Homo sapiens: one gene and its partners. The protein of the gene in region 1 purifies or fractionates together with the protein of each later gene. This does not show direct contact. Each region holds a gene or a part of one and is shown on either strand. Other genes may lie near its edges.

Region 1 (3,500 bases):
GATATCTCTGATCTCTACTTCTAGACTCCAGTAGCAACCTTCCCCCAGTTGTGAAAACCAAAAATGACATCAGACATTGCCAAATGTCCTCTGGGAGGCAAGACTGCCCCTAGTCAGGACCACTAATTTATTCCCATCTATAATAAATGCTAGCTCCAAAACATGCAGGCATTTAGACTGCCTGTGGTCAAACTCCTGAGCCCATAAATTTTGGCCCTTGGGAGTGGAGTCTAGGATAAGGGTCCTCAACCAGTTCATTCTGACCCTGTGATATTAACATAATGGTGTCCCTGATACTTTAGGCTGTTTTGGGCTAATGCATCTCATTGCTAATCATACTATAAAAGGACAGGGAGGCTGATAAATTCTGTGGCAGCTTATTTGAAAATGCAGAATGAAGAAATGAAAATGAGCCCCTCTCCCAGATTGATGCCTAACAGTTGAAATATATGTCATAAAGTATGTACTTGGGCTTGTCCCCCCAGAGAGCCTCTCAGGTTCTCACTCAGCACCTCATAACTCCTACTTCACTGATAATGCTGACCAATTTAGCAGAATGCTTTTCCAGCTTGTAGTAAATAGAGTAGACAAGCTCCTTGAAGTAATCAGAACTCCTGGCAGTCGTAAGAAATGATAGCTGGCATCTTCAGAAAGCAAGCCTAGATCCACATGAATTCAACAATCAGAGGCCATTTAGTTTGGGGGCACATTATAAGGTACTATAAAGCACCTTAACTCAAGACTTCCAAAAACCTGAGTTTGACTCTTACCCCCACCTGACAGCTGTGAGGCCTTGGGTGAGTTATTAACCTGAGGCCCAGTTCCCATGTCTGCATAAGTTTCCGTGTCCTATAAGTGTTGCGCTGACTCTAGGACTGAAAAGTCCCAAACTCAGTGCCTGGCATTGAGTAGGACCTCAGAAAAGAGGAGCAGTTTGTTTTTTGTTTTGTTTTGTGACAGGATCTCACTCTGTCACCCACGCTGGAGGGCAGTGGCATGATCTCAGCTCACTGCAACCTCAGCCTCTCGAGTAGCTGGGATTACAGGCACGTACCACCACGCCTGGCTAATTTTTGTTTTATTAGTAGAGACAGGGTTTCACCATGTTGGCCAGGCTGGTCTCAAACTCCTGACCTCACGTGATCCACCTCCCTCAGCCTCCCAAAGTACTGGGATTACAAGCGTGAGCCACTGCGCCCAACTGAGAAGCAGCTTTAAATACATTTCAGTCTGGGCATGGTGGCCCAGACCTGTAATCTTAGCACTTTGGGACGCCAAGGCAGGAGCCCAGGAGTGTGAGACCAGCCTGGGCAACATGGGGAGACCCCATCTCTACAGAAGAATAAAAAACTAGCTGGGCCTTGTACTATGTTCCTGTGGTCCCAGCTACTCGAGAGACTGAGGCGGGAAGATCGCTTGAGCCAGAGAGATAGAGGCTGCAGTGAGCCATGATGGTGCCACTGCATGCCAACCTGGGCAACAGAGGTAGACTCTCTCTCAAAAAAAATAAATAAATACACTTCAGCAGCCTCTGAAGATGCTAGTATTATATGACAGCTCAAGGCGATGGTAATTCTGAATCATTAAGATAAGATTATGTTTGATACACCCAACAATACTGTTTAAGGAGGCTGAAAAGAATATAATCAGTCTTAGAAATATTTCCATAGATAACGCTTACTGTGTACTGACCATTCCAAGTAATGAACAGACATTAACTTATTTAATCCTTCCATTAATCTTTTAAGGTGGGTACCGTTATTATCCCTATTTTACAAATGAGGAAACAGAGGCATAGAGAGGTAAAGTAACATGCCCAAGATCATACCAGGGAGTGGGTGAGCCAGGATTTGAACCTGGGCAGACTGACTTCAGAGTTGAGGTTCATAATAACCTCCGTACAACTGCTAGCTTTGTCCTAAATGGAATGACTTTCAGTTCCTTTGCACCCTGCAGTGATTCTGTCTGTGGTGGATGAATGGGCACAGAGAGAGAACTCTAAGCTGCATATCCCAGCAGGATCGCAGTATGGCGGTGCTCACAGGGGACTGTGGGGAGTCTGGAGCTTCCTGGACAGTGACCACAGTGCTCCTTGCCCCCTCTCTCCCCTCCTCTTGGCACTTCCCCTCTTAGGCGCACCCTGGCTGACATCATCATGGAGAAGCTGACTGAGAAGCAGACAGAGGTTGAGACAGTCATGTCAGAGGTGTCGGGCTTCCCTATGCCCCAGCTGGACCCCCGGGTCCTAGAAGTGTACAGGGGGGTCCGGGAGGTAAGAGCTGAGAGGGGAGCCATGGTGGAAGACCCCTTTGGGGGCTGTGGGCTCCTGCCACAGGCTTTTTTGCCTTTTGCCTGCATCACATACTAAAGAAGTCATGGGAGTAGAAAACAGACCTAAGAGGCAGAGTGTGTGGGTTCAGATTCCTGCTCTGCCTGTAAATGACTTGGCATCCTTGGGTCGGTTACTGGAACTCTCACTGGTCATCTGTAAAATGAGCATAATAATGGCACCTCCTTATAGGTTATTGTGGGGATGCAATGAGTTAATATATTAAAAGCACCCAGACAAGTTCCTAGCCCACAGCAAGCTTGCCATATGTGGATGACGATGATTGTTTTACCTCCCTCATCCCTAGGTATTATCTAAGTACCGCAGTGGAAAACTGCCCAAGGCATTTAAGATCATCCCTGCACTCTCCAACTGGGAGCAAATCCTCTACGTCACAGAGCCGGAGGCCTGGACTGCAGCTGCCATGTACCAGGCCACCAGGTAGAGTAGCTGGGGGTTCGGGGGCCTTGGGTTTATAGGTGCAGGCTGAGTTTGGGACGGACAGGCTTTCCTTGCCTCTGGCCCCAGGGCATTTGAGCTTTGCCCCAGGGCCCTCTCTGTGCTACTTTATAGCATCATTTTTCTAGCTTTTCCTGTGTCATTTTTTGGGGCCAAGACCCAGTTAGCCAGTTAGGAACCCTCCGTGATGAATTTCTAGGGGAGAGGCTTTTATAGCTACTGGGATACAACCCTCTGTGATGAATTTCTAGGGGAGAGGCTTTTATAGCCACTGGGATACAACCCTGTAGCAGGACCCTCAGAAGTCTGTGACTGCCCAGGCATGCTCAGGGCTACTCAACTGATGCTGAGTAGCCATCAGTTTGCACGAGCTCTGGCTCTCCCACAGACAAACGGTGCTCCTCATTTGGGTATATCTCATTGCCCCTCCTATTCTCTCTCTAAGCTGATGGGTGTTGCATGCACACAGCTCCCACACATCCCCCACTGAAAGAAAGGTCCCATATTTTACTTTAAAACCTCTTGTATGCACTATCCATGGTGATATTTAATGGGCCGGGTCCAGACTGTCGTGTGAGTTGGAAACTTCCCCCGCTTAACTCCCACTAGGATTTTTGCCTCTAACCTGAAGGAACGCATGGCCCAGCGCTTCTACAACCTTGTCCTGCTCCCTCGAGTACGAGATGACGTTGCTGAATACAAACGACTCAAC
Region 2 (3,500 bases), on another chromosome or scaffold:
GGTTCAAGCAATTCTCTTGTCTCAGCCTCCTGAGTATCTGGGACTACAGGCACCTGCCACCACGCCCTGCTAATTTTTGTATTTTTAATGGGGACAGCGTTTCACCATATTGGTCAGGCTGGTCTCAAACTCCTGACCTCAGGTGATCCACCCGCCTTGGCCTTCCAGTGTGCTGGGATTATAGACGTGAGCCATCGCGCCTGGCCAGATGTGTTTCTTTTTTTTTTCTTTTCTTTTTTTTTGTTTTTGAGATGGGGTTTTGCTCTGTTTCCAGGCTGGAGTGCAGTGGTGCGATCTTGGCTCACCACGACCTCCACCTCCTGGGTTCAAGCGATCCTCCTGCCTGAGCCTCTGGAGTGGCTGGGACTACAAACATGTGCTAACACGCCCAGCTAATTTTTGTATTTTTAGTAGAGACGGGGTTTCACCATGTTGGCCAGGATGGTCTCGATCTCTTGACCTCGTGATCTGCCCACCTCGGCCTCCCAAAGTGCTGGGATTACAGGTATTAGCCATGGTGCCTGGCTGTGTTTCCCTTCTTATATCCTTTTCCCATGCCACTTCCTTCCCATTTTACTCCTTTTTTCCTAGCTTTTATGTACATGTATACATATAGACATATGCCTAGACACACATACATATTAGCTTTTTTTTTTTTTTGGAGACAGAGTCTCTGTCACCAAGGCTAGAGTGCAGTGATGTTGTCATGGCTCACTGCAGCCTTGACCTCACCAGCTCAAGTGATCCTCCTGCCTTAGCCTCCTCAGTAGCTGGAACTACAGGCACATGCCACCATGCCCAGCTAATTTTTGTATTTTTTGTAGAGCCAAGGTTTTACCATGTTGCCTTGGCTCGTCTTGAACTCCTGGGCTCAAGCGATCTGCCCACTTTGGCTTCCCAAAGTGCTGGGATTACAAGCACGTACCACTGCGCCAGGCTTACATTGTAAAAAATGGGCCGGGTGTGGTGACTCACTCCTGTAATCCCAGCACTTTGGGAGGCCAAGTCGGGCGGATCACGAGGTCAGGAGATTAAGACCATCCTGGCTAACACGGTGAAACCCCGTCTCTACTAAAAATACAAAAAAAATTAGCCAGGCGTGGGGGCGGGCGCCTGTAGTCCCAGCTACTCGGGAGGCTGAGGCAGGAGAATGGTGTGAACCCGAGAGGCAGAGCTTGCACTGAGCCAAGATCGCGCCACTGCGCTCCAGCCTGGGTGACAGAGCGAGACTCCGTCTCAAATATATATATATGGAATCCTAATTTCACATTTTATGCAACTCGCACTTGCCACTCAGCAGAATGTCTTTTATTTCGTAGTATGGATACGTATAATTTGTTTGATCAGTTAATTGAAATTTGGAGGCTTTCCAGTGGTTATCAGCAATTCTATAGTCAACATCTGTGTTCAGTATATCTTTTTGTATGTGTAAGAATTTTTTTGTATTGTAGATTTCCTAGAAGGAGAGTTGTTGAGACATAGGATATATGCATTTAAAGTTTTGATGGATGTCTCAAATTGTCCTCCCAAATATCTGTTCTCATGTCTTGAATCTTTTTATTTTTTTTGAGACGGAGTCTCACTCTGTCACCCAGGCTGGAGTGCAGTGGCACTATCTTGGCTCACTGTAACCTCCACCTCCCGAGTTCAAGTGATTCTTCTGCCTCAGCCTCCCAAGTAGTTGGGTCTACAGATGCGTGCCACCATGCCTGGCTAATTTTTGTATTTTTAGTAGGGACAGAGTTTCACCATGTTGGCCAGTCTGGTCACGAATTCCTGACCTCAAGTGATCCACCCGCCTTGGCCTCCCAAAGTGCTGGAATTACAGGCGTGAGACACTGCTCCCAGCCTCATCTCTTCAATCTTGAACATGTTACATTTATGACAAATCAAAGGTAGTGGCTAGTAAACTCCAAAAGGTTTTGTTAGTTCAAAGGTTTTTTTTTTTTTTTTTGAGACGAAGCCCCTGTCGCCCAGGCTGGAGTGCAGTGGCACGATCTTGGCTCACTGCAAGCTCTGCCTCCCGTGTTCACGCCATTCTCCTGCCTCAGCCTCCCAAGTAGCTGGGACTACAGGCGCTGCCACCATGCCCAGCTAATTTTTTGTATTTTTAGTAGAGACAGGGTTTTCACCGTATTAGCCAGGATAGTCTTGATCTCTTGACCTCGTGATCTGCCTGCCTCGCCTCCCAAAGTGCTCGGATTACAGGCGTGAGCCACCGTGTCTGGCCAAGTTCAGAGGTTTTCTTAAAAATTGTGGTAAAATATATGTAACATAAATTTTACTATTCTAACCGTATTTAAATGTATAGCTCAGTGGCATTAAGTACATTGACACTATTGTACAACCCAAAGAGTGTTGTTTTGATTAGAAAATAAGCAGCTTCAGGAAAGGCATAGATGACTCTGACTTTGAATTCAGTGGGATAAAGGAAAGTAGGATGTTTTGGTGTCTAGTACTAGAAGGACAAAAATGCCTTCCACAGTTTGTGTTTCAGTGCCTTTGTCAGAGATGGAATGTTTAGGTGGGCAGAGTTATAAGAACACTCCAGCCATGGTAGACAGAAGCCCACAGACCAATCAAAATACATTGAGTCTTGGTTCTTGGTTCAGGACAGGATTAAAAAAGAAGTGGGGGTAGGGAAAGATTGCTTGTTGTAAAGTATAAAAGCCTGGACACGATGGAAGTGATTTGCATGTGCTTCTATTTGTTTGTGTGTTTTTCTGTGTTCAGATTGTCTTTTTATATCTCACCATTTCAAAACGATTTGTTTTGGTTATTAAAGATATATACGGTATTTACCTTTTAACATAAGATTAAAAAATTAGTAAATGAAAATTTGAAAGAAAAGAAAAATGATACAATCACTATGGTATGAATAGAACACAGAATTTGTGCCAAAGAAAGTGTAATTTGTTTGTCCCTGAGCTTCCTAGTAGCAAAGAAAAGAGGGAAACACAGTCATTCCGTGGTCCATAGGATTAGGACAATCCAGAACTCAGGATTAGTATAGCTTTCCCCAGAATAGAGACCTCAGAACATTTACCCTTGAATTATAAGTAAATGATTACTGTAGAAAACCTGATCTTCAATCACATCTCTGAAGTCAGTACTGTGATAAGTTTAATGGAACTGTTTGTTACCATGTCCTTCAATCTAGACTGATGGCATAATGTCAAAGTACAGTGCAGGAAAGGGACCAGATGAAAATGATTCAGATGTGTAGCCTGCTGATGTTCTGACTTGGCCAAGAATAAAATTAGAGTAGCTACAGTAATGCTTATTTCTTAAGTTCATTTGAGTATGAACTCCATAATTTTGCCGTGCTTGTGTTTCATCTATAGTATTGTTCACTTAATACAGTGTTTTTTGTTTTTTGTTTTTGAGATGGAGTCTCGCTCTGTCGCCCAGGCTGGAGTGCAGTGGCACAAACTCAGCTCACTGCAAGCTCCGCCTCCCTGGTTCACACCATTCTCCTGCCTCAGCCTCCCGAGTAGCTG
Region 3 (3,500 bases), on another chromosome or scaffold:
ATATTCCAGATAATGAGAACTAATATTTTTAGAGGCAGAGATGGCTGATGCCTGCCCCATCTACCCCCTTCCTGCTAGAAGCCAGTGACACTCCCTCCCTCTGCAGGGACAGACCTCAGAAGTCTTCTCGGTGTATGCTGGGTTTGGTGGCTCACACCTGTGATCCTAGCACTTTGGGAGGCCGAGGCAGGCAGATTGCCTGAGCTCAGGAGTTCGAAACCAGCCTGGGCAACACGGTGAAACCCCATCTCTACTAAAAATACAAAAAAATTAGCTGGGCGTGGCAGCGTGCGCCTGTAATCCCAGCTACTGGGGAGGCTGAGGCAGGAGAATTGCTTGAACCCGGCAGGTGGAGGTTGTAGTGAGCTGAGATTGTGCCACTGCACTCCAGCCTGGGCGACAGAGCGAGATTCCATCTTTAAAAAAAAAAAAAAAGGTCTCAGTGTAGCATGCAAGCAGCCTCTGTCCGTACAGAGTTCATCGAGCAGTACAGGCTAGCACATGTAATGTGCTCCCATCTGATTGCCAGCTAGACCTTGTGATTTAAATAGTGAGATGTTGTTTTAAAATTTTGCTCTGCGGATAAAGAATGGTGAAGGTTCAGAGAGCTTAACCTGATTCAGTACTGTGTGTGGTTCACTATCAGCATCCAGCAGGATCTCGCTCTGGAATGGCTCGTAACAGAAGCGGAGAGAACAGAGCAATGGCGATGGAGCCCTCTGGTCTATCTGGGGACACTCGCTGTCTTTAGACTCTGGTTCAGGAAATTGTACCCAAGGTGGTTTGTTTGTGTTTTTTGTTTTTTTTTGTTTTTGAGACAGAGTCTTTGTCTGTCGCCCAGGCTGGAGTGCAGTGGCACAATCTCAGCTCACTGCAAGCTCCACTTCCCGGGTTCACGCCATTCTCCTGCCTCAGCCTCCTGAGTAGCTGGGACTACAGGCGCCCGCCACCACACCCGGCTAATTTTTTTGTATTTTTAGTAGAGACGGGGTTTCACCATGTTACCCAGGATGGTCTTGATCTTCTAACCTCGTGATCCGCCCGCCTTGGCCTCCCAGAGTGCTGGAATTACAGGCGTGAGCCACCGCGCCCGGCCCCAAAGGTGTTTTTAACAAACATTGTTTAGCACTGCCACGGTAGGAAGTTACTAGAAGTTACTAGGGATTAATAACTCAGCGTGTGTCAGTTGAAACAAATTGGTTCTTGAAATATTCTTGAAGAAAATGACGAAAATTGCCTTGGCAGTATTTATTGAACTAATGGATGGTTTCCTACTCTTCAGGTAGCAGAGGGGTTTTTCATGCATTTTAAGTGTAATAATAGCACTTTCACATTTCAAAGTGAGATAAGAGAAATGGTTTTTTCACATCCTTTTCTCCTGTCCACATGATTAATATTTCGGTTGACCTCTCCAGATGGAATGTGCTCTAAATGGAAAGGAGGGCCAGGTCGTGCTTCTGTCCCTGCTGGAGCATCTTCTGCTCTTGCCCAGCTGCTTCTTAACCCCTTCCACTCTCTTTTCCTCCTCTTCCAGCTCCTGGTTTTGACCTTAAATCTGGGTTTCTTAGCCTTTAAGTTCATCTCCGACCCTGGGGAAGTGACCTATGTCTGGAGCAAAATCTGACCTGTCCCCTCCTGAAACAGAACTTGGAACCAGAGTGGCAGTGACCAAGTCACCACACGCTCCCTCCTGCCACACGCACGCATTCTTTCAAAGTGACTTCACAAATTAGAGGAATCCCTGAGGAAGGCAAGGAACACTTAAGTCGGGTTAGATGAGAGGTTTCAAATGTCTGCCGAGGCACCGATTTGTGGTGGGTTTGTAAAACCACTGAATTGGATCATTCCAAGGGCCTTCCATGGCATCAAGATTTTGCCTTGATGCCATTTCCTTTCGGAATTGCTGTGTAAACACCAGTGTAATGGCAGTTCCTTAGCAAATAGAAGAAGTTCCGCAGCAAGAAAGAGTTTGCAATGTGGCCATCTCAGGTTGCAGAGGCCACTCGTTCCTCACCCATCTCTGTCCTCTCACAGCTTTCTTTAGGGAATTCAACCTCCAGGACAGCCAACTTTGAATACTGTTAAACTTGGTCTTTTTTTGTTGCTGCTGGGAAAATAACCAAATTATTTGATACTTGCTAACCGTATTTAAAATATTGCTCCTCTTGGTGTTATAAAGGTGAAGCCCCTAAACTGTGACCTCGCTAACTTGTTTATTGCCTTGTGTCTAGTATGAACTCACAACTACACATTTCTTAGGAGTACCTTTGATGGGAAATAGTACCCTCCTCCATGACGGAAGGAGTCTAAACCCATTTCCACTTTTCCAAATGTGCACGTTTTAAACCTTAAGGCAGCTGTTACAGCCGAGGGAGCCATTCATGCCTTGAGCTTGACTAGTGTGTTCTTTTTTACCCTTCCTTTTGGCACCGGTAGACTCTAAAGAAGAAAAGAAAGTGATTGCCCCATTATCCTTGAAAGTTGTTTTGCTCTTCTCAAAATTCTGTGATTAGTAGAGAAAGCCTATCGTGCATGAAAGCAGATTGGGTGTGAACTTTGACATCACTGTGCATAGCCCTGAACTTTAAAGTATGCACTGTTCTGATGTCCCCTGTAGTGGAAATCACAAGAATTTTTTGTGAGATTGTTTCTGACCTGTTTTCCAGCGTACACAGACTTTACTAAAAGAGTACAAAGAAAGGGATAAATCCAATGTATTCAGAGATAAACGCTTCGGAGAATACAACAGCAACATGAGCCCCGAGGAGAAGATGATGAAGAGGTTTGCTCTGGAACAGCAGGTATGGAAAGAAACTGGAGGAGGGTTTTTGCTGTACATTTCACAGGGAAGTCAAGGCCAAGGAGAAGGCTGACTCTGCATGTTTTGCATGTTCCTGGGCACTCGGAAGGTCCAGGGGATAGCCCTCGAATCCTGTGCCTTATCTGGCTAGGCCAAAGGAGAAGCAACCTCTTCTGCAAATGTTAGCTGAATGGATAAATGCCTTAACTCTACTACACGGCAGCAGTGTGCACAGGAGTTCTCAGCTGAGCAGCATTGCTGGAGTGGAAACTGGCCCCTGGGCTTATTTAAGAATTCCCCTCCATGAGGCCGGGCGCGGTGGCTCATGCCTGTAATCCCAGCACTTTGGGAGGCTGAGGTGGGTGGATCATGAGGTCAGGAGATCGAGACCATCCTGGCCAACGTGATGAAACCCCGTCTCTACTAAAAATACAAAAATTAGCCAGGCGTGGTGGCGCATGCCTATAATCCCAGCTACTCAGGAGGCTGAGGCAGGAGAATCACTTGAACCAGGGAGTCAGAGGTTGCAGTGAGCCCAGATCACTCTACCGCACTCCAGCCTGGGCAACAGAGCGAGACTCTGTCTGAAGGAAAAAAAAGAATTACCCTCCATGAGTTTCATTTCTGTCTGAATCATGAATCATTGCTTAGTTGACCCAAAATACTCTTTAAGGCTGCTTAGGATTCGTTGTCATATTTC
Region 4 (3,500 bases), on another chromosome or scaffold:
CAGCAGGTGGAAGAGGGTGGAGACTGGAGAGGGTAGAGGCTGGGAGAGGGTGGAGGCTAGGAGACCGTAGAGGCTGGAGAGGGTGGAGGCTAGGAAAGGGAAGAGGCTGGAGAGGGTGGACACTGGGAGAGGGAAGAGGCTGGAGAGGATGGAGGCTGGCCCTGGCAAGCAGAGCTGTGCCTCTGGTCTCCCCTGGCCTTGTCTTCTTGTCCTCTTAGTTTTGTCTAGTGAGGAGTCAACTCTGCCTTCCTCAGAACTGACCCAGCTGAACCTCGGGGTCCTCCAGAGAATGGGGGAAATTAGCTTGAGGGATCTTCTCACCCTCTTAAGAGTTAGAAAGATCAAGCCCCACCTGAGCCTTCTCTGCCTCTTCCTCTCTCTTTTTCCCGTGTCCCTGCCGCCCGGGTTCTGGTGCCACCAGCTGAAGGAGGATACAGAGTTCCAGGAGTTTCTGTCAGTTCATCAGAGGCGGGCGCAGGCAGCCACTTGGGCGAATGATGGCCTGGATGCTGAGCCCTCGAAAGGGAAGAGCAAGCCGGCCAGTGACTACCTGAACTTCGACTCCGATTCTGGGCAGGAGAGTGAGGAGGAGGGAGCCGGGGAGGACCTGGAAGGTGAGGGCATGGGGACTGTGTGCTCCATGCGCACGGACCTGTGCTTGCCATTGGGCTAACCGGCACTGGGGGCCCCTCTGTGCAGACTCTAGGAGTCAGGTGAGCCCTTGAGCTCTCCATTGGGGGTGATGATCCCTCTGCAGGTGCATCTGTCTTCACTGATCCTAGTTGTGTATTCAGTCAGTCAGTCAACAAATATTTCTTGAGCACCTATTATCTGCCAGGCATACTTCAGGCATTGGGACCATGTTGATAAGCAAAAGACAGAAGGGTTTATTCCCCTATGGAGCTGTGATTATGGTTGTGGAGAGAAACAATAAGCAAATAAGTCCACTGTTGGGTATATCATAGGATGATGAATGCTACAGAGAGAAAGCAGGAAAGGCGACAGGAGAATTATGAGGGAAGGCCTCCCTGAGGAGGTGAGGGAGTGAGCCTTTGTCCTCAGAAGGGGTTTGTGGTGTGGGGGAGGCCTGGTGGGCAAGAAAACAGTTGCAACACAGGAGGGTACGTGCTTGGTGGAGAACTGGGCATCTATTTGGGTCTAAAGGTGAGAAGATGTACATTTAGTGCAGTTATGCCTGGTAACGTTTCTGCACTAAGTTCACATCCGAGGAACTCAGGGGACTTAGTGGGACACGGTAGGGGAGGGGAGAGGAAAGGGGTTCCAGTCAAGGGAACAGCATCGCAGAGACACAGAGGAAAGGAAAGTGCATGGGCTTGAGGGGCTCAATGTGGGTTGGGATGGCTTGAGCAGGAGGAGACAGTGGAAGAAGCCCACGCAGCCAGCCCTGATGAGGAGCCTGGATTTCACCCTGAGCATTCAGAAACCCCTGGAGGGTATTAAGCAGAGACTGACCGTCCTGTACCTACTCTGTAAAGTGTCACAGAGGCTGCCGTGTAGAGGACTAGGAAGACATGGCTGGTGGCAGGGAGCCAGGAGCTCAATGTGTGGCACAGAGAATATCAAAGCTGCAGTAGCCCTGCCCCGTTTTGGTATTGCTAATCAGAGGACTTATGGGGGATGCTGGGCACAGGGGCCATGGACACGGTGGGCATGGTGCCTCAGGCCTCTCACTAGGAGGACCATCTACCATTTGCTACCTCTGACCTCTGGTTTGCTCATAGCTGTCGCTGATCCCAGCTTCCCTGTTTTTCCAGAAGAGGCAAGCCTCGAACCAAAGGCAGCTGTGCAGAAGGAGCTGTCGGACATGGATTACCTGAAATCCAAGATGGTGAAGGCTGGGTCGTCCTCTTCCTCGGAGGAAGAGGAAAGTGAAGATGAAGCCGTGCACTGTGATGAAGGGAGTGAGGCCGAGGAAGAGGATTCCTCCGCCACCCCAGTCCTGCAGGAAAGAGACAGCAAGGGTGCAGGCCAAGAGCAAGGGATGCCAGCTGGGAAAAAGAGACCACCGGAGGCCAGAGCCGAGGTGCGTGTGTATCCCGCAGGTGATGAGGGAGGAGGTGCGCTCTCCTGCTTGCCCGTGGTCCCCACAGCTCCTCTGTTAGGAGAGCGGAATGTTGGGGAAAGACGCAGCTCTGCAGTCCAAAGCCTTCCCGATCTTGGCCCTGCCGCTTGCTCGCCGTGTGTTCTTTCTGCGTTTCTTTTCTGTTTTTATTTTTATTTTATTTTATTTTATTTTTTGAGACAGAGTCTCACTCTGTCACCCAGGCTGGAGTGCGGTGGTGCAATCTCAGCTCACTGCAACCTCCGCCTCCTGGGTTCAAGTGATTCTTCTGCCTCAGCCTCCTGAGTAGCTGGGATTATAGTCACACCCAGCTAATTTTTTGTATTTTTAGTCGAAATGGGGTTTTGTCATGTTAGCCAGGCTGGTCTCAAACTCCTGACCTCAAGTGATCCACTCATCTCAGCCTCCCAAAGTGCTGGGATTATAGGCATGAGCCACTGCACCCAGCCTCTGCATTTATTTTCTGTTGCTAACCTGGAGAGGTCACCTGCCTTCCAGAAATTGCCTATAAGTAGGGTGACAACTAAATTATTGTCAACACTAAGTTAAAAGTGAGATGCTAGTCCAGTGGGGTGCCAGGCTGTGGATGTAGTTACTGCAGGTCTAATGACTACAGATAGAGTGAACAACTATCCCGGGCAAACTGGAGCAGCCCCGGTCAACACACCCATATCCCACCAATGGGGCAGAAGTGAGCTGAGTGATGGCTTTGAGCCTTTATCCTTTGTATTTAGTAACAACACAGGCAGAGGGGTGCAGACCAGTCATCAGCAATCATAGGGAGGATCAACTGAGCCTGCGCTACACACTAGGCACCATGCCTGCCGTGCCGTTGCATCTCATCACTATCTGGAGGGCAGTATTGGTCTTGTTCCATTTTACAGATGAGGAAACAGGCCTGGAGAAGGAAGGTGCCTCAGCCAGGGTCATGGCTGGGAAATGGTGGGTTCAGGACTTAGCCCCAGGTCTGTGGGGTCTGAAGTCGAGATCATAAACGTGGGCGCTTCCCCAGAGGTCGGCCAACTCGTCTCTGACCTGGGAGTCCTCTCTGCATCAGAGACAGAGCAGTTTGACATGTTGTCCAGGTCCCTGTTCCCTCCTTTCTCTGTGAAGCATCACTTCTCTCCCTGCCTAGCCCTGTATTTTTTTTTTTTTTTTTTTTTTTTGAGACAGTCTTGCTGTCGCCCAGGCTGGAGTGCAGTGGTGTGATCTCAGCTCACTGCAGCCTCTGCCTCCCGGGTTCAAGTGATTCTCATGCCTCAGCCTCCCGAGTAGCTGGGATTACAGGCACACACCACCACACCCAGCTAATTTTTGTATTTTTAGTAGAGATGGAGTTTCACCATATTGTCCAGGCTGATCTTGAGCTCCTGGCCTCAAGTGATCAACCCACCTCAGCCTCCCAAATTGCTGGGAT
Region 5 (3,500 bases), on another chromosome or scaffold:
GCTTTTAAATATTTCATCATCTTTCGAGTCTGATAATACAGAAATAAAGTTGCTTTTTGAATGATTGTATTCATTAATGCTGTAAAGTCCCCTTATTCAAATAACTTCATGTAGATTTTTTTCTGCATATATTATCACATCTTTAAATAATTAGAGTTTTATTTATTCTTTTTTAAGTTTCTGGGACCCTTAATACAATGTTGAGCAGAAGTGATATGATAGTGTGCCTTCTTGTCTTATTCTTCTTAAAGGAGAAGCTATCAGCAAATCATTGAGAGTAAAGTGTTTGTTGGTGTTTTTTTTTTTTTTTTTTTTTTTTTTGGTGTGTGGAAGCTCTTATTACGTTAAGTTTACTAAGACATTTTTATCTTGTATGGATAATCAGTTTTATCAAATATCTTCTGCTTCTGATGAGATTATGGTATGACTATTTTAGTTGGTTCATGTATTCAGTTAAACTGATGTTTCAAATATTAAACAAATTTTTCTTTTTAGAGTAAACCTAACTTGCCAGCATTCAATTTGCCATTATTTTGTTTTGTGATTTTCATATGTAAGTTTATTTAGTTTTCTTCAGATGTCCTTGTAAGATTTAGATATCAAGCTATTCTAGGTTCAGAAAACAAGTTGAGGGTTTTACATTTCTTTTATTTGAAAGAGGTCTTTTAAAAAAAAAAAAATTAAGTGTATTTTCTCCAAAACTGTTTAGTAAAAATCTGTGTCTGATGGGATGCTTATGGGTTCTTTTATTATTATTTCTTGTTTGCATCTATATGCCTAGTTATTTTAATTGTGCACTGGAAATTCTGTTTACAAAATTCTTTATAGATAAAAATTTGAAGCTTGGGATGAGGGTAGCTTTTTTTCAGCAAGGTTTTATGTTCCTTTCTGCCAGGAAAAGAGGCCCCAACCTCTGCACTCACCTCCCCTAGATGTCTCTCATTCCCTAACCTCTTGATTTACAATTCTTTGTTAACTCCTTGTATCTTCAGGCTACTTTTCTAGCTGTCCACAGTGGGGTGGTTGGACCAGATGACCTAGGGAATCAGAGCAGAAGTCACTCCCATTTTCTGTGGTTTTAGATAGTTCCTTTTTCTTTTGCTTTTCTGTCTCGCGTCACCTAAACTACTAGAATCTAGAGAGTGTGCATTATGTATTCCAGATGTATAATAGTGTATCTTTTGTTTTTGTTGTTTGTTTCTACAACTTTTATACTTTATTAGGTGACTTTATTTAACAGAAAGTTTGTCATTTCTGGTATTTCTCTCAACACAGAAAAGCCAAGTTGTGTGTTAATTTTGGTTATGTTTAAATAAGTTTGTAACCTTTGCTGACCTCACAACTTATGTTTTGGTAGGGAAAACTAAAGCTGAACAATATTTGGGCATTTGGACTTAGAAGAGAGAGTAGTGGCTTGTTACTCTTTTTAAAGCAAGCTAAAATCGTTTTAAATGTAATGCTTTACAGGATCTATTTTAAACACACACTCTTCCTTTACAGAACGCTTTGGATAAACAAGAAGAATTGACACCTCTTGGAGTCCACTTGGCACGATTACCCGTTGAGCCACATATTGGAAAAATGATTCTTTTTGGAGCACTGTTCTGCTGCTTAGACCCAGTACTCACTATTGCTGCTAGTCTCAGTTTCAAAGATCCATTTGTCATTCCACTGGTAAGAAAAATGGAAATAAAACCGAGTTATTTTAGATGTGAACAGGAGTTGCTTAGATATATTTTTCATTAGCGTTTTATTAGAATGTCATTCTCCATTATAGCATCAGAGCAATTTAAATTGGCTATGTCTGCTATTTTTAAGGGAAAAGAAAAGATTGCAGATGCAAGAAGAAAGGAATTGGCAAAGGATACTAGAAGTGATCACTTAACAGTTGTGAATGCGTTTGAGGTAAAAAAAAAAAATTTTGTCCTGGATTATGATAGTTTATTCAAATGAAATGCTAATAATAGAATAAGGATCATATTTAACCTTTTGAAATCTCTGTTATAAGGCCGGGCGCGGTGGCTCATGCCTGTAATCATAGCACTTTGGGAGGCTGAGGCAGGTGTATCACCTGAAGTCAGGAGTTTGAGACCAGGCTGGCCAACATGGCGAAACCCTGTCTCTACTACAAATACAAAAATTAGCTGTGTGTGGTGGTGGGCATTTGTAATCCCAGCTACTCAGGAGGCTGAGGCAGGAGAATTGCTTGAACTCCGGGGCGCGGTGGTTGCAGTGAGCTGAAATCATGCCACTGCACTTCAGCCTGGGCGATGGAGTGAGACTCAATCTCAAAAAAACCAAAAAACCAAAATCTATATTATCATAGGTATCAGGAGTAAATTACTGAGAATGTTGAAATTTAGCTGAACATTTGAAAAAAGTTATAATTCATTTTTAATTTTGTAATAGTTCATTACATTTACCGTTTTGGGGAAATAATAGTTTTTGGTAAGAATGAACAAGTGAATAGTTTATTTTAAAATTTTGTATTTAATAATTTCTTTGTATCTTTGGCTTATTAACGCTAATGACAGTCTCTTTCTATTCATTAATAAACTACCCTGTATTCAGATTTAACATGTAATAGAGGATCATAATCATGTACATAATTCAGATTAAAGAGACATTTTCTGCTCCCAAAAGCCACGTGTATCTGAGGGTAAACATTTATCACCTATCTTGGTAAAATTTAAATGTAATTTGGTTTTTAGAGGCAGTATCTTTTTTCTGTGGCTCTACATTCTGTTTCATGTGACATATTATGGGAAAGTTCATGTTTTTTTGTCTTTGAGCTTATTCAGCTTGTCTTTCCTTTTTCCCCATTTCCCTCCTCTTAAAAAAAAAAGCAAACTATAAAGAAAATCTGTGAATTTGAAAATATATAATAGCATTTAAGTCAGTTTAATAGTGTGTTCTTTTTGATTAGTGTATTATGTACAGTTTGGATGCCATTTTGTGTAAAATACATAATTAATATATTACTATATACTTAATTGTATAAAGGTCTGGAACTTCAGTGGTGGTTGTCTCTTAAGGACTAGGATCATGGGGAGTGTATGTGTTTTTAGTTTTATCAGTTATAAAATTCTTTGAATTTTTTACAAAGAAAATTAAATATTAGTAGAATATTAAGCTTTTACTAAAGTAAAGAGGGAAACCAGTAGTAATCTTTGTTTGCGGGAGAAATATAGATTTCTTCATTTCTTTGCCCCATAGGGCTGGGAAGAGGCTAGGCGACGTGGTTTCAGATACGAAAAGGACTATTGCTGGGAATATTTTCTGTCTTCAAACACACTGCAGGTAATGGTGAATGTTTTGCAGTAATTATCATATATGCTAGATTAGAGAATATATACATCCATTTTGTACAATTAGATCTATAGCAAAAAAGTCAAATATATGGAAATTGAGTATATTTGTATATATACACAAAGTAATGGGGGATCTTTCTGAAATCAACTGCAACAAAACAAGGAAAAGAAACATGGTTCCAGAGGATA
Region 6 (3,500 bases), on another chromosome or scaffold:
TATGTAATCTTGTCAATGAAAACACTCTGAAGGCAATAAAAGAAATGGGTTTTACAAACATGACTGAAATTCAGCATAAAAGTATCAGACCACTTCTGGAAGGCAGGTATGATTAACATTGAAGCTTAGATATTGGCATCTATTTTTAGAACTAGTAGATGATAAAGAACATACCAGTATATTCTGTTGATTTTGTACTATATGTTGGGTCATGTATCCAGCATACATTAAAGGCTTTAAGTTAATTACTGATGTTTGAAGGAAAGTGTTCGAAAGGTGTTCTGCTTCTGTTGTAGCACAGTTCTGACTTATGATTTCAGTATATAACCCAGGTGATCAATTTCAGCACTGTAGACGTTTCTTGTTCATGTTCTAGCCGTAGTGCCTAAGGTGTGTGTATGTAGTACGTCGTAAATGAGTAGGCTAAATGTCTTTCTCCTTTCCCTTTTTAATATTTAGGGATCTTCTAGCAGCTGCAAAAACAGGCAGTGGTAAAACCCTGGCTTTTCTCATCCCTGCAGTTGAACTCATTGTTAAGTTAAGGTTCATGCCCAGGAATGGTAAGCGTTCATCTGCTTGTTTCTGCCATTATTTCACTAGAGGTTTATTGTAGCTGTTACGGACTCAGTGGTGACAGCCACATTTAGACTTCTACCATATATCATTTTTAGGAACAGGAGTCCTTATTCTCTCACCTACTAGAGAACTAGCCATGCAAACCTTTGGTGTTCTTAAGGAGCTGATGACTCACCACGTGCATACCTATGGCTTGATAATGGGTGGCAGTAACAGATCTGCTGAAGCACAGAAACTTGGTAATGGGATCAACATCATTGTGGCCACACCAGGCCGTCTGCTGGACCATATGCAGGTAAGAGATGTAGTGCTTGTCTCATTGTCTTGTATGAAACATAAACTGACAACTAATGGTTGTTCTTTGTCCTTTGTTTTGTTAGAATACCCCAGGATTTATGTATAAAAACCTGCAGTGTCTGGTTATTGATGAAGCTGATCGTATCTTGGATGTGGGGTTTGAAGAGGAATTAAAGCAAATTATTAAACTTTTGCCAAGTAAGTAGGTAGCATCTGCATTTGGTTTGCAAAGTATCTGTTGGAGGTAGATAAGAGTTGTTCCTATAGAAAAACTGTACTAATGCCAGAACTTTACCATAGCCAAGTGAGGTAGTTGTGCCAATTAACCCGAAAGGTAATTTGGAATACAAGCATCAAATGTATTATAACTTGATATAATAGTTTTGCTGTTTTAGAAGTTATAAGGCACGTTAAGCAGTCTTCACATAGGTCCTGTCCTCCACCTCTTGCCCATTCTTACCTCATCTAACATCCCCCAAGAAGCCGCAGATTTTTTGCCTTACTTGTACATACCTTGGTTATAGTACTTGCAACATTATGAACTGGTTATAACTAAGACCATGGTTTCCTTCATTATATAATTTATTTTTAAAAGCTTTGTCAAAGTATAATTATATCTACCCATTTATAATGTACAATTTGATGTTCTTTGATTTGTTTACCACTGTGACATCATCGCTGCAATCAAGAAAATGAACATGTCCATCACAGTCAAAGGTTTCCTCCTGCCCCTTTTCAATTTCTCCCTCCCACCCCTCCTTACACGTATACCTTGTCCCCAGGTGAGTATTGATCTGTTTTCTGCTGCTAGATTAGGTTGCATTTTCTGGAAATAAAGTTGCTGTGAACAGTCATCTACAACTCTTTGTAGAGGCATATATCTCCTTTTCTCTTAAGTAAACCTAGGAGTGTCCTAGTTGGTATATGTTTAGTGTATGTTTAACTTTTTAAAAAACTGCCAGATGTTTTCCAAAGCGGCTGTACCATTTAACATTCCTATGAGCAGTGTATGAAAGTTCCAGTTCCTCCTATTAAGTCTTGACCATCAGGTAATGTTAGCCCCAAGTTTGTTCTCTTTTAAAGTTGTGGTATTCTTGTCCTTTGCTTTTCTATATAAATTTTAGAATTGGTTTGTCAGTTTCTCCCCCTTCCCTCCAAAAAAGTCTCAGATCTTGACTGAGATTTTATTGAATAGAGATTATTGGAGGAAGACAGTATTGAGTCATGTAACCCATAATAAGGTATATCTCCATGTATTCGATATTTTCTCTATCATATTTAGGGGGGTTCGGGATACAGGTTTATTCACATCTTTTGTCAGATTTATCTCTGAGTGTTTCATTAAAATTTCAAGTTCCAATTGCTCGTTGCTTTAATATATACATATATACACACACACATATACACACATATATATGCACACACAGTTGAATTTTATATTGATCTTGTATCTAGCAAGACAGTTAATCCTGTACCGAATGATTATTCAGTATGACTTTCCAGATGACTGTAGCCTTTTGGATTTTCTATATAGGCAATCATGTGCAGATAAAGACAGTTTCACCTCTTTATTTAATTTTTTTTTCCTGCCTGATTGCCCTGGCCAGAACCTCCAGTATGGTGCTGAATAGAAGTGGTGAGAGCAGACATCCTTATCTTGGTTCTGATCTTAGGGGAAAGCATTCAGTCTTTTACCATTAACTACATATGAAGTTAGCTGCAGGTTTTATATAGATGCCTTTTATCAGATTGAGGAAGATCCCTTCTGTTCCTAGTTTGCTGAGGATTTTTAATCAGAAATAGATGGTCAAATGTTTTTTTTCTGTCTGCTGAAATAATCATGTTTTTTCTTTAGTTAACATAGTGAATTGTATTGGTTGATTTTTCAAATGTTGAACCAACCTGCATTTCTAGAATAAACCTGATCCATTTCTAGAATAAACATGAGCCATTATCCTTTTTATATATTGCTGAATTCACTTTACTAAAATTCTATTTCAAATTTTGTATATGTGCTCACGAATTGTATTGGTCCATAGTTTTCTTGTCATGTCATGTCAGGTTTTTGTATAGTGTAATGACTGACTTCGAAGAATGAGTTGACATGTAAGCCCTCTTTTTAATTTATTGGAGAGTTTGTGAATAATTGATGTTTTTTTCTTAAATGTTCAGTAGAATTCACCAATGGAATCCATTTGGGCCTGGAATTTTCTTTACATGAAGGTTATAACTAAAATTTCTTTAGTAGATATAAGGCTATTTAAAGTTTTCCTATTTTCTTCAGTTGTTTGTCTTCAAAGGAGTTTGTCCATTTCATCTAAGTCCTCAAATTTATAGACCTAGTGTTTCATGATATACCCTTTTTACCTTTTGTAATATTTGTAGATTCTGTAGAAACATCATATCTCCCATTTCTGATATCTCTACCTAGAATATTTGTAGTTGTGAGGCAATTGTAAAGATTCCCTAAAAGATTGGGGTTATTTTTATATGTATCTGTTTCAGCACGTAGACAGACTATGCTCTTTTCTGCCACCCAAACTCGAAAAGTTGAAGACCTGGCAAGGATTTCTCTGAAAAAGGAGCCATTGTATGTTGGCGTTGATGATGATAAAGCGAATGCAACA
Region 7 (2,866 bases), on another chromosome or scaffold:
GGAGAATCCACTGCTGGTACCACTGGAGGAAAAGGCAGTACTGCAGGAAGAACAAGCCAACCTGTGGTTCTCAAAGGTAAGGAGAGGCCGGGGGCAAGACTGCGGGGAGATGAGTCTTCCTTGGGAGAAGGGCAGCTGATGTTCTCCTATCACAGGGCAGCTTTGCTGGGATCGAGGACGATGCCGATGAGGCCCTGGAGATCAGTCAGGCCCAGCTGTTATTTGAGAACCGGCGGAAGGGACGGCAGCAGCAGCAGAAGCAGCAGCTGCCACAGACACCCCCTTCCTGTTTGAAGACTGAGATAATGTCTCCCCTGTACCAAGATGAAGCCCCTAAGGGAACAGAGGCTTCTTCGGGGACAGAAGCTGCCACTGGCCTTGAAGGGGAAGAAAAGGATGGCATCTCAGACAGTGATAGCAGTACTAGCAGTGAGGAAGAAGAGAGGTGAGTAGTTGCAGCTGAGAGAAGGGATGGAAAGGAAGCGGTGGCTTGAACCATTTCTCTAAATTGGGGGTTCTTAATCTTGGCTGCACATGGGGAGGGTTAAAAATACTGTACTGACGATCCTGATTTAACTGGTCTGGGGTACAGCCTGCATGGCAGGATTTTTGCAAATTCCGTGGGAGTGCGGTCTGAGTAGTACAGAGTGGTGGAATCACTCAGAGTCCTCCCCTCTTCACAGCTGGGAACCCCTCCGTGGTAAGAAGCGAAGCCGTGGGCCTAAGTCAGATGATGACGGGTTTGAGATAGTGCCTATTGAGGACCCAGGTGAGAGCTCTGTATGCAGTGGAATGAGAAAAGACCACTGGAAGTCTCAGTATTGGGAATTGAGCTTTGACCTTTCTCCTTCCCTCTCTAGCGAAACATCGGATACTGGACCCCGAAGGCCTTGCTCTAGGTGCTGTTATTGCCTCTTCCAAAAAGGCCAAGAGAGACCTCATAGATAACTCCTTCAACCGGTAAAGGGGCCATAAACTCATCAAGAGTGACCCAGGGTCTGGTGGGTAAATGGGTAATTTTTTGTTTTTGAGATGGAGTCTCGCTCTGTTGCCCAGGCTGGAGTGCAATGGCACGATCTTGGCTCACTGCAGCCTGATTCTCCTTGAATCGCTTGAGTCAGCCTTCTGAGTAGCTGGGATTACAGGTGCCAACCACCACGCCCAGCTAATTTTTGTATTTTTAGTAGAGATGGGGTTTCACCATGTTGGCCAGGCTGGTCAAACTCCTGACCTCAGGTGATCTGCCCACCTCAGCCTCCCAAAGTGCAGGGATTACAGGCGTGAGCCACCGTGCCCAGTCTGGTAATTTCTTTAGAAAGCCTGGAATGTTGGATATTAGACAGATGTCCTTTCCACTCAGGTACACATTTAATGAGGATGAGGGGGAGCTTCCGGAGTGGTTTGTGCAAGAGGAAAAGCAGCACCGGATACGACAGTTGCCTGTTGGTAAGAAGGAGGTGGAGCATTACCGGAAACGCTGGCGGGAAATCAATGCACGTCCCATCAAGAAGGTGGCTGAGGCTAAGGCTAGAAAGAAAAGGAGGGTAAGTGATGGGGCCTCCAGAGATTGGGTGGGGTGGGGGTGGGGGGATGGGGAAGAGGTCACCTGACAGGTTCCTTTGCAGATGCTGAAGAGGCTGGAGCAGACCAGGAAGAAGGCAGAAGCCGTGGTGAACACAGTGGACATCTCAGAACGAGAGAAAGTGGCACAGCTGCGAAGGTAATGGGAGGACACCACAAAGGTACACAGGGCTAAAAGTGCAGCAGAAAGCAAGCCTCTAACCTCTTCTCTTCCCCCCTGTAGTCTCTACAAGAAGGCTGGGCTTGGCAAGGAGAAACGCCATGTCACCTACGTTGTAGCCAAAAAAGGTGTGGGCCGCAAAGTGCGCCGGCCAGCTGGAGTCAGAGGTCATTTCAAGGTGGTGGACTCAAGGATGAAGAAGGACCAAAGAGCACAGCAACGTAAGGAACAAAAGAAAAAACACAAACGGAAGTAAGCAGAGCTGCCAGGCTCCCAGGAGAGCATGGGGACTAGGAGGAAGGGTGTGGCATGGCTCAGTCTGGCCCCCTTGATTACCGGCCTAGCCCCTGCTCACATCACAGCTGTCTGAAGAACAGTGAGGTGGAGTGCCTAGAACTCCCGTGGTGGTCCTGAGCAGAGAGGAGGATGTCCTCCTGCCTGCCTGAAGGTCTCCCATGAAAACACTGCTGAACTGTGTTGACACTCATGACCCTTTTTTTAAACCGTTAAAGGGAAGTTCGGTGTTGGAGCGATACTCAATGTAGTCAGTCTACACCTGGACGTGTGGGCCACTTAAGCCCTCCCCACCCCCATCCTATTCCTGAATAAAACCAGGATAATGGAAGAGTTGTCTTTTCTGACAGTTTTAATAAGCACTTCCCTATCTGTCCCTACACTGTGTGCGGCACTATTCTTAATATGTACCAATTCATAGACAGAAATGACAAACGATCCACAGGTCCCGGTAGTAAAACATTTACTAGAGAGCAAGCAGAAAGGAATGCACATCTTAAAGAAACCTTCACAAAGTCACAAAAGTCAAAGTTTGTATATTTCTTTTCCTTTTTATAAACGATAAACAAAAATCATCAAAATCATTTCAGCAAAAGACTTTTCTATCATTGGGGCAAGTTAAAAAAAATACAATGAGATAGAAGACACTTTAAAAGCTGTTGTTGGGTTTCTTGTTTAATTTTAAATTTAGCAATACCATCTCAAACCTGGAGCAATCCTGGAACAGTTACCAGGATCACCTTTTCCCTTCAATCCTTGTGGCTTCTGGGAATCTTCAGAGCCTGGGTCTGAAAGGTGTTTCCTACATGTCTCAGGGCTGGATGCAAACCT

What was found.
Region 2: the proteins of BYSL (region 1) and PARN purify together in Homo sapiens (affinity purification with mass spectrometry; 4 studies listed by BioGRID and IntAct, with this or other methods). This does not show direct contact.
Region 3: the proteins of BYSL (region 1) and NOP14 purify together in Homo sapiens (affinity purification with mass spectrometry; 4 studies listed by BioGRID and IntAct, with this or other methods). This does not show direct contact.
Region 4: the proteins of BYSL (region 1) and RBM19 purify together in Homo sapiens (affinity purification with mass spectrometry; 3 studies listed by BioGRID and IntAct, with this or other methods). This does not show direct contact.
Region 5: the proteins of BYSL (region 1) and DHX36 purify together in Homo sapiens (affinity purification with mass spectrometry; 3 studies listed by BioGRID and IntAct, with this or other methods). This does not show direct contact.
Region 6: the proteins of BYSL (region 1) and DDX18 purify together in Homo sapiens (affinity purification with mass spectrometry; 2 studies listed by BioGRID, with this or other methods). This does not show direct contact.
Region 7: the proteins of BYSL (region 1) and FTSJ3 purify together in Homo sapiens (affinity purification with mass spectrometry; 2 studies listed by BioGRID and IntAct, with this or other methods). This does not show direct contact.

What each region holds. Positions count from the first base shown.
Region 1 is NC_000006.12:41,927,999-41,931,498, forward strand, and holds part of BYSL (bystin), read left to right. Parts: intron 1-2,133; coding exon 2,134-2,272; intron 2,273-2,636; coding exon 2,637-2,770; intron 2,771-3,397; coding exon 3,398-3,500. UniProt on the Homo sapiens protein: Required for processing of 20S pre-rRNA precursor and biogenesis of 40S ribosomal subunits. May be required for trophinin-dependent regulation of cell adhesion during implantation of human embryos.
Region 2 is NC_000016.10:14,620,261-14,623,760, reverse strand, and holds part of PARN (poly(A)-specific ribonuclease PARN), read left to right. Parts: intron 1-3,500. UniProt on the Homo sapiens protein: 3'-exoribonuclease that has a preference for poly(A) tails of mRNAs, thereby efficiently degrading poly(A) tails.
Region 3 is NC_000004.12:2,956,907-2,960,406, reverse strand, and holds part of NOP14 (nucleolar protein 14), read left to right. Parts: intron 1-2,666; coding exon 2,667-2,801; intron 2,802-3,500. UniProt on the Homo sapiens protein: Involved in nucleolar processing of pre-18S ribosomal RNA. Has a role in the nuclear export of 40S pre-ribosomal subunit to the cytoplasm.
Region 4 is NC_000012.12:113,956,326-113,959,825, reverse strand, and holds part of RBM19 (probable RNA-binding protein 19), read left to right. Parts: intron 1-421; coding exon 422-614; intron 615-1,775; coding exon 1,776-2,044; intron 2,045-3,500. UniProt on the Homo sapiens protein: Plays a role in embryo pre-implantation development.
Region 5 is NC_000003.12:154,282,988-154,286,487, reverse strand, and holds part of DHX36 (ATP-dependent DNA/RNA helicase DHX36), read left to right. Parts: intron 1-1,500; coding exon 1,501-1,674; intron 1,675-1,818; coding exon 1,819-1,905; intron 1,906-3,216; coding exon 3,217-3,300; intron 3,301-3,500.
Region 6 is NC_000002.12:117,821,191-117,824,690, forward strand, and holds part of DDX18 (ATP-dependent RNA helicase DDX18), read left to right. Parts: coding exon 1-106; intron 107-459; coding exon 460-560; intron 561-671; coding exon 672-871; intron 872-956; coding exon 957-1,071; intron 1,072-3,378; coding exon 3,379-3,500. UniProt on the Homo sapiens protein: ATP-dependent RNA helicase that plays a role in the regulation of R-loop homeostasis in both endogenous R-loop-prone regions and at sites of DNA damage.
Region 7 is NC_000017.11:63,818,933-63,821,798, reverse strand, and holds the end of FTSJ3 (pre-rRNA 2'-O-ribose RNA methyltransferase FTSJ3), read left to right. Parts: coding exon 1-76; intron 77-155; coding exon 156-445; intron 446-683; coding exon 684-769; intron 770-860; coding exon 861-960; intron 961-1,360; coding exon 1,361-1,544; intron 1,545-1,625; coding exon 1,626-1,720; intron 1,721-1,804; coding exon 1,805-1,997; 3' UTR 1,998-2,366; downstream 2,367-2,866.